Linked DNA regions of Homo sapiens: region 2 is linked to region 1. A link means that fine-mapping ties the variant in region 1 to the expression of a gene that starts in the linked region. Tissue or cell type: monocytes. Region 1 holds a variant in brackets; the other region holds the start of a gene. All regions are shown on one strand. Distances are from middle to middle.

Region 1 (6,204 bases):
CATACTTCCCACTACAAGAAAAAATATGACTTCATTTTTTTCAATTTTTTGGCATCTCATCCAAGTATATAAATTTTTGTTTACCAATAAGTAGCTCAGAATATTTTGAACACCCTTATAAGACATTCTTTCAAGGTATTCCTTTTGAGAAATCCAAAAAAGAGCAAAACAGAGTTCTATTTCTTGGCATTATAAATCCTCATGTCCATTTTGCATAATAAATTATTAAGTTTCAACCAAACAAGCAACCAATAAAACAATTGTTCAGATACATAACTAGAAACAAAATAATTTTTGTCTCTCATTTATTTTGCAACTTTTTTTGATAGCATTGATATTTAATTCATGCATATTTTTAAAAACATTTATTAATCAATTTCTTAAGATCAAAAATATATCTTTGACCGAATTTTTTTTTGTTACTGAAGTTTTGTTTTTGTGAACTGTGTTTGGGGTTCAATAAGATATTTAACATTTTTAACTTTCTTAATTAATTTCTTTATGTTAGCACCAGGGATTTATGGTGTTTCTTCAGACCTCTGTTTATTTGTGCATAATTCACAATGACAATGCTATGGAGCAGTGAGTGACCAAGGTGGGCCCATAGGCATGGAGAAATTATGGATGTCAAACCCTGGGCAGACTTCCTCCCTGGTCAGGGCTAGTGGAGAGGGAATGGGTTTCCTTGTTCCTTTCTGGCATGGAGTAAATCCCAAGCAAACAGAAGCCTAGGGGAAAAGGGAAGTTGGTGGTCTAGAACCAGCCTTATTTGCTCTTTTCTTTCCCTCTTCTCTTCCTCTCTCCCTTTCTCTCTTCTCTTGCTATTTCAGTTTAGACTCCTTTACATACTCAGAACAGAAATTTGCTCATATTAGTTCCCATAATGATTTAATGTTAAAATCCAGAGATTTTACCTCAGTATGGTGGCATGTGCCTGTGGTCTCAGCTACTCAGGAGGCTGAGGCTGGAGAATTGCTTGAGCCATGGAGTTGCAGGTTGCAGTGAGCTGAGATCAGGCCACTGCACTCCAGCCTGGGCGACAGAGTGAGACCCTGACTCAAAAAGAAGAAGAAGGGAAAAAAAAAAAAAAAAGGCCAGCTGCAGTGGCTCAAATCTGTAATAGAAGCACTTTGAGAGGCTGAGGCAGGCAGATCCCTTGAGTCCAGGAGACCAGCCTGGGCAACATGGCAAAACTCCACCTCTACAAAAAATTCAAAACTTAGCTGGGTGTGGTGGCGTGTGTCTGTAGTCCCAGCTAGTTAGCAGGCTGAAGCAGGAGGATCACTCCAGCCTGTGAGGTCAAGGCTGCAGTGAGCCAAGATGGCTCACTGCACTCCAGCCTGGGTGACAAAGTGAGACACTGTCAAAAAAAAAAAATCACCCCCCAAAACAAAACAGATTTTGCAGGAACCCACCCAAGAAAAAGTGTTAGGAACAACAGAAGATTCTCTCTCTCTCTCTCTCTCTCTCTCTCTCTCTGTCTCTCATATGACCTTTCTCTCATGACATCTTTGTTTTTCTGTGTGCATTTGCTCAATTCGCATCTATTAACTAACTTCTTCTTCCTATAATTTCCATTTCCACCATGCCTCTATATCCTGACTCTACATCATACCTTCAACTCCAGTTGTCTTTTCTAATTCACTCAGTTTCTCATTCCCCAACTCCAAAATACCAATAAATAAATCTGATTGGCTCAGCTGGTCTTTTCAAGCCAGGCCATTGATGGTCCTAATCCACTCAGGCTGAGGGATAGGATCACATGGATACAGAAAGGGCTATGAGCAGGGCAGGCAATGATCAATATCTCAGTATAGTCTTCTATTTTTCTCTCATTTCTTTTTTCAAATAGCTACTGAATACCCACCACGTACCCATTACTATTCTAGCCTCAGTCTCTACTTTCAAGAAGCTAATCATCCAGGAGAGGAAAGGAAGATGGGGATTCCAGAGAGACTTCTCAGGTAAGATGATGCCTGAACAATGTCTAAAAGAATAAGTAAGAGTCACCTCAGTGATGGGAGTAGGAGGTTGGCAAAGATGAAGAGGAAGAACACAGAGGATTCCTGGCAGATGGAGCCATTTGTAGAAAGGAACAGAGGTTAGAAATTCACTGTAAATCCCTGGGACTGCAGGTGGTTCAGCAATGCTAGGGGCCTGGCAAGAAATAGGCTGAAGAGGTAGGTGAGGGAAGATCATAAAGTGTCTTGCAGCCCCCAAGTTTGGAGGACAATGTGACCACTAAATAATTTTCAGTAAGGCAGTAATACAATTGGATTTTTGTTTTATAAAGATCTCTCTGGTAGCAGTGTTGGCAGTGGATTGGACGGGTACTACTGAAGTCTAAGAAATGAATTAGAAGATCACTCTAGGCTTCAAGGTAAGAAATGACGTGAGGATTGGAATTAAGGCATGCCATCGGAATGGAGAAGAGATGGACTTGAGAAGTCCTAAGGAAAGAGAATCAATGCATACAAACTCAAGATGTGAAAGGAAGAGTGACTAGAGGTCTGGTGGCTTTACCCCCTTGAATACTTTCTAAGCCCACCCCCAACACAAGTACTAGTCAAATACCTACTTCTTCTTCCCTATGTCTTACCATTGGTGTGCACAAGCAGATGAGAAGAAGCTGGGAGAGGTTACGGCTTCATTTTTAGCATCTAGGGAGCACTGTTTTACAAACTTGCTAACCCTCCTTACAAAACCTTATCCATTTGTATTCCTCAAATCTGTTTACCGTTGGACCTGTCTTCCAGTCCATTCTTCCAAGCCCTATTTTCCTTCCTTGGCTGCTCTGCTCTTTCACATTCCCTTGACTGATATTGTCCAGAAATCCCTAACATTCACTCACTCGCACATTCAGTCAACATTTGTTAATTTCCTACTATAGACAAAGAGAAGAGAGTGATCAAAGAGCAACCCCTCCATGACACCCAAGCACTTTCTGTAGCTTTGAGGCAGAAGAGCAGGGTAGAAAAATATAACTACAGTGGGATTAGCAAAAAATGAGCCCATCAGCAAGGCTTTAATGAACTCAGTGTGAGCCCAAACTCTGCAAGAATCAGAGAAGGCTCCACACAGATTTATAGATTTCACTGTCTATGGTCAACAGCAAAGGTAGGGACACATGTAACTTGGGCTATTTTCTTTTGGAGGTCCCTCTGGCCCATCTCACCTGCATGATCTCCTAGATGTGCTTTCACTTGCCAGCATGCAAGCAGCAAAACAATAATTTTATTTTAAAATAATTATATTTTAAACAGTAAATATTTAATATTAAACAGTAAATATATATGAAACAGTAAATATTTAAAATAATTAGTGTTTAGGGCTAGAAAAGTGGAATTTAGAGGGTCATTAGCAGTTATCCTCCTGCCTAGAAGTGTAGCTTAATCTCCAGCCTTAATGACTCCCTGCCAACTGATTTGTCTCTAGTATAACTAACCACAAAGGATGAGAAGAGAGAAAGAATTGGAAAGGGATCCTTATTCTGAGTTTTAGCATATACTGGCCTCAAGAGCCACATTCAACACTGGAATTAAGCTACATTCCTCTTTCTCGTCAGGCACTTCATTCACCACAAATGAACAAAATATTTCTGGTTCGTTTCTGGAAAGGAAGTGAAACTGTGAATTCAGGTTACCCAACAGG[G/A]AAGGCACAGTAGGAAGAACAATAGCTGAGCACATCAGTACCAGCTTCATAGAGACCAGCAAGCAAGATGGGGTGGGACAGAGGATCAGTACATCTAATGGTCTGATATAATGCTTCATGGTTTCACAGAAGCGCAGTTGGGAACAATTTAACATGGTTCGTGACAGCCAAGAAACACTTGTTTGTCTGAAAATCCTAGACTGCTGACATCAGGGCCCAGGGGATTCCTATTGGGCTGAGGCAATGCAAAGACTACAAAAAAGGCAAAGCTGTAAATCATGCCCTAGAGGTCAAAACACTTACACAAGGTTACACATGGAATTCTTGCAGCCAACCAAATTGGACTTTCTTTGAAGCTAGGTAAACAATCTTTGTCTTGGCTGCTATGTCACAGCCATATAAGATGGCAAAATACAGCTGCAAAAAGGCTTTCAGCAGTTTCACCTAGTTTACCTTCTATGTCTAACACCCAGTAGACCAGAAGATTCCCCTGACGAGACTGTTTCCTTGGAGCATGATCCTTCGTGTTCTCACACTGTCCTTTCCCCATTTCTTTAGTCAGTTGTATGGGATGCACAAACATTTTACTACCTGTAAAGCACGTGAGTTACAGCCTCATGAGTTTGGAGCGATACATTATTTTTGGCATAAGTCGACAAATGTGATGGCATTTTATGGCAGTTTCATAGGCCCTTTCCTAATTTCTGTGTACTTGCATCTTCCTTGAAAATCAGAACCAATTCTCCCAGCCTCCTTATTAATAGGAAAGCGAAATTTCTTCTCTTTGAGCTACAGGTTCACCCCCATTTCCAGGTCATATTCATTTCATTGCTTAAATCTATTTCAACTGTAACTTTTTGTTACAGTTTAACAATTTGTTAAATTGTTAAACTTTTTAACAACGTTTATCAACTTTGTTCATAAAATTATCACCAATTACATATCCCTGGTTCAGAGGCTCAAAGTTATTTATGTTGTAACTACTTCTTCATGTTTTGAAACCTTCTCTAAAAACTCTCAAGTTTGCTTTCAATTTTTCCAATGATTTTTTTCTAACTCCTAGGATCTCCTCAGTCCCCAGGGAGCTCACACTCCAAGGCCCACATCTAGTTCTAAACAACCCCAAATGAAACATTATAGCATCTTGCATTAGTCTATTCTTACGCTGCTAATAAAGACATACCCTAAACTGGGTAATTTATAAAGAAAAAGAGGTTTAATGGACTCACAGTGTCACATAGCTGGGGAGGCCTCACAATCATGGCAGAAAGCGAAAGAGGAGAAAGGCACATCTTACATGGCCACAGGCAGGATTGCGTGTGCAGGGGAACTCCCCTTTATAAAACCATCAGATCTCTTATTCACTAACAGGAAAACAGTGTGGGAAAGACCCGCCCCCACGATTAAATTACCTCCCACAGGGACAATTCCCATGACATGTAGGAATTATGGGAATGATAATTCAAGCTGAGATTTGGGTGGGGACACAGCCAAACCATATCACACCGCTTCAGACAGACTTTATTGGTCTTATTTTCTGCCCATTTGAATTATTTTACCATCTAGTTTTCATTCGAGTTTTTGTGGGGATTTTGTTGGGAGATGGGTGTTCTTCTGCATGTAGTTAAGCTGTGTTGGCAAGACTGTGGGAGTCAGGGAGGTCAAAGGAGCCGGAATGTAAGTATGGAAGGTCAAAGCTGGGGCGGAGGGAAAAAGTGAGGGAGACAGAGATTGAGTCTCTATAAAATTCCAACCTGCTGCAGTAGCTAATCCTTTCAAAGTCACTTCATATACTGCTAAGTTAATGGAGGCAGTCATTTTTCCCAGACAGTGGTAATATTTGTTACCTGGACAACCTACTCATTTATTCTCTACCCCTCCCCTAAATAGGACTGCAGTCATTTCTGTGTGAAAACAAAACTCACAGTTCAACAGAGCCATACCATTTAGTTTGTTTAATTACAATGCTTATTTTTATAAATACCCAGCAGCACATTTTTAGAAATCTAACAAATAAGCAAATACATCCTTAGATCACAGACACAGCTCTCCTATTTTGTTTGGTACAAAAAGGAAAGAACACTTATCACACCTACACACTATTATTTCCCCATTTCCATCCACTTAAATGCACTTAAATCCACTTAAATGGAGAAATGACACGATTCCTAGTTTTCTAAACCATAACTAGAATTTCCTCTGGGGAATTAGTGTGAATACTCTCAGAAAATCTTTTGCAATGATATTTAATTCCTCTTTTGTACTTTAAAACGACTTCATAACTGATCAAATAAGCAAAAAAAAATTGTGGGGGTGGGGTGGGGGGCATACACAGGCTAGAGAATAACTAGAAGGCTATTCCAGAAACCCACCAAGACTTTGATTTTGGAAACTGACCAGATGGCTTCACTGGTGAATTTTTCTGAATGTTTAAAGAAGGAATAACACTACTCTTACATAAACTCTGTGAGTATGGAGAAACAGGAAACATTTCCAAACTTGTTTATGAGGCCAGCATAATCCAGATTTAAAAAAACTGGCAAAGACATTATA
Region 2 (5,000 bases), 58 kb after region 1:
TTCTTCATTCCTAAGCATTTTAATGCTATAAATTTGCCTCTAATCACCACTTTGCCTGCAACCCACAAATTTTGATATGTTGGATTTTCATTATTATTTAGTTCAAATAAATTTCCAATTTTCTTATGAGAAAATTAGACCTATGGGTTATTTGGAATGTGTTGTTTAATTACCAAATATTTAGAGATTTCCATATATCTATCTGTCACCGATTTTTAGTTAAATTCCACTGTGGTAAGAGAACATAATGTGTATGATTATAATCCTTTTAAATTTATTGAGACTAGCTTCATGGCTTAGGATCAGTCAGTATGGTCAATCCTGGAGAATATTCCATGCACACTTTAAGAAAGTATTCCACTACTGTTGGGTGGACTATTTTATAAATGTCAATTAGGTGAAGTTGGTCTGCAGGACTATTTCTTTCTTTTTTTTTTTTTTTGTGAGACAGAGTCTTGCTCTGTCACCCCAGCTGAAGTGCAGTGGCGCGATGTCCGCTCACTGCAAGCTCCGCCTCCCGGGTTCACGCCATTCTCCTGCCTCAGCCTCCTGAGTAGCTGGGGCTACAGGCACCCACCACCACGCCCAGCTAATTTTTTTTTTTTTTTGTATTTTTAGTAGAGACGGGGTTTCACCGTGTTAGCCAGGATGGTCTTGATCTCCTAACCTCATGATCTGCCTGGCTCGGCCTCCCAAAGTGCTGGGATTACAAGCATGAGCCAACCGCGTCCGGCCTACAGGGCTATTTCAAGTCATCTATACCCTTACAGGTTTCCTGTCTACTTGTCCTATTTATTACATAGAGAAAAGTGCTGAAATCCTGAAGTATAATTGTGGATTTGCCTGTTTCTCCTTTTAATGCTATTAGGTTTTGCTTCGTCCTACTTTGAAGCTCTGTTCTTAGATATACAAACAAGTAGAATTGTTCCATGCTCTTAATGAATTTTTCATTATGAAATGTGCCTGTTTATTGCTATTAATATTCCTTATTGTAAAACCTACTTTGATATTAATATTGCCACTCCCAACTCTATCAGATTATATTGAGGTATAATTAACAAACAACAAAATTCGCCAATTTTAAGTGTACAAATTGATGAGTTTTGAGAAATACATGCAGCTGTATAATCATCATCACCGTCACGATATAAAACATTTCCATCTCTCCAAAAAGTTTCCTTCTGCCCCTTTGCAGTCCCCTCCCCCAATGCCACCGTCACCTGACTCGGCACCTGATGTGTTTTCTGTTTCTATAGTTTTGACTTTTCCAGAATGTTACATAAATGAAATCAAAATAATAAGTAGAATTTTTGATAGAGCTTCTTTCCCTTCGTCTAATGAATTTGAGATTCATGAATGGTATTAGTTTGTTTCTTGTTATTGCTAAGTAGTATTCCATTATGTGGATATACCATATTTTGTTTATTCATTTACTAGTAGAATAACATTTGGCTTTCCTCCAGTTTGGGGCCATTATATTAAGCTGCTATAAAACTGGAGTACAAGTTTTTTTAATAGAATTGCGTTTTTATTTCCCTTGTAAATATGGTAAGACTAGTACTTGAGACAATAGTGCTCTTAAGCTGTCTCTCTTTAGTCATTAAGCTTCCAATTAGTCCTAGAATCAGTCTCAGTAGTTAGGAAATCATGACTGCATACTGAACACTGTACCAGGTGAAAGAGAGGAATATATAACAAAACGTTGAGATCGATAGGTATCGATATATGGCTTCAAGGCCGAGCAGAAGCCACCCGAAGCAAGGAGAAAAAATGCCAGGAAAGCTCACAAATATAGTTTTGATCTTCATGCTACTGTGAGAATTAAAAAAAAAGGTGAACATAAATAACAACCTTTGAAAATGTCAACACGTGAAGCTATTAACCAACTCCACATCCCTGTTTAGAAATTCCTGCTTACTATTCGAATATACACTTGACATACAATTGACGGACGTTCCAACACTATATTTAATTGGCAGAAATTACTTCTTAAGGGTACAAAGGGTTTTCTTTATGCACGCAAATGATTACTGTCGAAGGTAATCTGGGACTCGATTAACGGCTGTGTTAATTATTCTCCCTTCAGCAGACCTCAGTATCCGTTTAAGACTAAAGTGGCTAGAATTACCTGCCCACCCGGGCTCCCAGTTGTAACTGAGACAAGCGGAGGAGCCTGAGGAGCTGAAGACGCACAGGTGACGGTCGCGGATGGCCGGCAGGATCTGACATTTAAAATCGCCCTGCTCATCTGGGCCTCGGAGCCTTTGACAGGCGGGCGTGTCAGCGACAGTGTGGGGAAGGGGCTGGGCTCCGCCAGGCAGCGCGCGACGACGCCCTTGCCTTGGCCTTCACAGAGTAGAACCCGAGAAGCCCACTCGCCCGTCTTGGCCAACGCCCCCAACGCCCAGGGCTCCCCCCGCAGTCGGCGGGCAGGTGTGCGTGGTGCGCGAGCCCAGTGCGTGCCGGGTGCGGCGCCAGCAGCGGAGGGGCGGCCCGGCGCCCAGCGGAGAGCCGCTGGCTGGGTGGGTGTCGGCCTCCCCGCCTCCTTCTTCTCCCCGCCGGCTTGCCGGGGATGCTTGCGCGAGGCGCCCCCTCGCCTTTAAGCTCCCGGCCCCGGGGGGCGGTGTGTGTGAGTAGCTGGGAGGGGGCCGCGAGGCGCTCCGCCGAGGGCTCGTCCGGGTTTGTCCGCCGCCGTCACCTGACTCGTCGGAGGAGCCACAGCTGAGGTGGGGGCGGGGATGGGGACGCAGCTCGGAGCGCTAGAGAGACGCGGCGGCGCTGGCAGAAGAGGCGGCGGCGGGCGGGTACTGGCTTCTGGGGCCAGGGGCCAGGGGCGGTGGGCGCCGGGACCGCGGAGCTGAGGAGCGGGGCCCGGCCAGGGCTGGAGACTTTGCGCCCGGGGGCACCGGGGCTACGCGCGGTCGCACACATCCACCGGCGCGGCTTCCCTCGGCGGCCCGGGCTCCGCTCATCCTGCGGCGGGCGGCGCCGCTCAGGGGCGGGGTGAGTACCCGCGGCCGTACTCGGCCCCCTCCCCGCGCCAGGGTCTCGCGGGGATCCGCAGAGGATAATCCCAGGGTGCGGAGAAGGGCAGCGGCCGAGTGACAGCTCCGCGGAGCGCTCCAGGGCGGGCGGGGGACTGGGCTTCGCTGTCAGCCCGGCTCCTCTCCAAAGCCAGGAAGGGTGAGGCGCCCCAAGACTCCGGCGCCTCCGCAGAGCTCCCGGGCGGCCCCTGCGGCAGGGATTTGGAACCGGGGGGAAGGGGCCCGGGCGATGGGCCTCGGCGAGGCTTTGGAGCCGGCGGCGAGGAAGGAAGGGGAGGCGAGGGCATAACATGGCGCAACGCTAGGATAATCTCCTTCGCGACTGAGGGAGGACGAGCCCTTTGCTGCAGCAGCGCGAGGAGGAGGAGGGAGGCAGCCAGGGCTTGGGTATCCGATGCATTCCCCGAAGCCTGCGGGCTGCTAGGAGGAAAGTCTGCTGAGGTGGGAGATGGGCACCGGTGGGTGCGGCGCCCAGGGAATAACCCCAACGCACGTTGTGGCTAGTCCAGCACCCGCGGGTCAGGTTGCGGGGAAAGTGCTGATTGACAGGGGGGTCCCCAGGGGGTGAGTCTGGCCCTATGTGGGGGCCGGGGGAGAATGGGGACGGTGTCACGATGCTGCGACTGGAGCCCACGCTGGGGTTCCGTGACGGCCCTACTCACGGCCAAGACTCCCTGGACCGCATCGCAGGAGCGGGGCTTGGCGCGTTGCTGGCTCCGAGAGGTGGTGCCAGGGTGGGGATGGAGGAGGAGAGAGCCGCCGCGCGGCTGGAGGAGGCAAGGCCTGGGTGCTTGGAGGGTAGGGTCTGCGGATTAAAGCCGGACCGTCTCCCCTTGTTTCCTGCAGAAGAGGAGGCGGTAGACGCGACCACAGAAGATGTCGGGCCAAACGCTCACGGATCGGATCGCCGCCGCTCAGTACAGCGTTACAGGCTCTGCTGTAGCAAGAGCGGTCTGCAAAGCCACTACTCATGAAGTAATGGGCCCCAAGAAAAAGCACCTGGACTGTAAGCATCTCTTTATATAAGAGGGACATGCGCACGGCAGAGGCGCCTGGGATGCTGGTGGTGCGGCCTGCGCTCTTGGTCCATAATGCTGTGGCCTCTGATACTCCCAGCCAGGTTGCCCCTGAGCTGAAATTCTTCAGCTGTGAAGGTGTTCCCTTGGGTTAGCCATGAAACCTTGTCTTGTGAGCCATTTTTTCCTCTTATTGACCTCCAAGGTCTTGGTGGAGGGGGAAAAATACACACACACACACACACACACACGCATATGTATATACACACACACAAGAGAGAGATTGTACACACTGAATTAGATGTTTTTCACCTTTTTTTCTTTCTCCACCCACCCTCCCTTCTCCAAATTAGAGGAAATTAGAGGTTGCACAGTCAAAAAAAAAAAAGATGAATTTATGGAAGGTCAAACTTGTCACCCTAGTTCTTTCCTAAATACATTTCAGATAGTTCTAAGGTAGTATAATCTTTTTAAGTGTTGCTCCTGAGGATTGTTTTTGTGAGTATGGGTGTGTGTGTGTGTGTGTGAGGTATGTTACCATACCAAACTGAAATAAATTCAAGGTACTGAATGAGGAAATTGGACTTCATAGCTATGGCAATTTCATTTTACACATCCTGGCACACTTTGTCCCATTCTCAGAAAATGCTGGGTGAGATGACTATGCTATGGTCACAAAATGGATGTACTTCCCCAGCATCTGAGATGGTGCAATTTTAGATGAAACCGTTTAATTCTTAATATTATTTTTGTAACTGGTTATTTGATGGAAAAGGCTTTATTCTACTCTGGAATCTATATATTTCTGAAATACCTTAATTAACAGTAAATCTTTTGTCACCGAAGGATAAACAGAGGCACTTAGAAAAGAAAAAGGCTTTCACCTGCTTTGGGTGGTGAGGTTTCTCATAAGTCAGGCTATATGAGTGTATGTTCAGCA

Alleles and levels. Alleles are on the strand shown, and positions count from the first base shown. SD is a standard deviation of normalised expression in the study named.
In carriers of allele A in region 1, the expression in monocytes of the gene that starts at base 2,747 in region 2 tends to be higher than with G alone (large effect, 1.9 SD a copy in Fairfax 2014).

What was found. PIP is the estimated chance that this variant, and not a neighbour inherited with it, causes the effect.
Region 2: it holds the start of SNAP91, and the variant in region 1 is fine-mapped to the expression of SNAP91 in monocytes (Fairfax 2014, PIP 0.95).

What each region holds. Positions count from the first base shown.
Region 1 is chr6:83,764,657-83,770,860 of GRCh38, reverse strand. No RefSeq gene overlaps it. Among named protein-coding and RNA genes, the nearest start is that of SNAP91, 59 kb to the right of the region's middle. The variant G/A (reference allele first, on the strand shown) is at 3,652.
Region 2 is chr6:83,706,848-83,711,847 of GRCh38, reverse strand. It overlaps SNAP91 (synaptosome associated protein 91), which reads left to right and starts at 2,747. Exons shown (of 30, transcript NM_001242792.2): 1 at 2,747-3,003; 2 at 3,891-4,050. The coding sequence starts at 3,921. LOC105377879 (a long non-coding RNA gene) reads right to left here and starts at 2,406. Exons shown (of 3, transcript NR_136251.1): 1 at 2,129-2,406. RefSeq lists silencers at 2,475-2,534, 2,865-3,074, 3,484-3,778.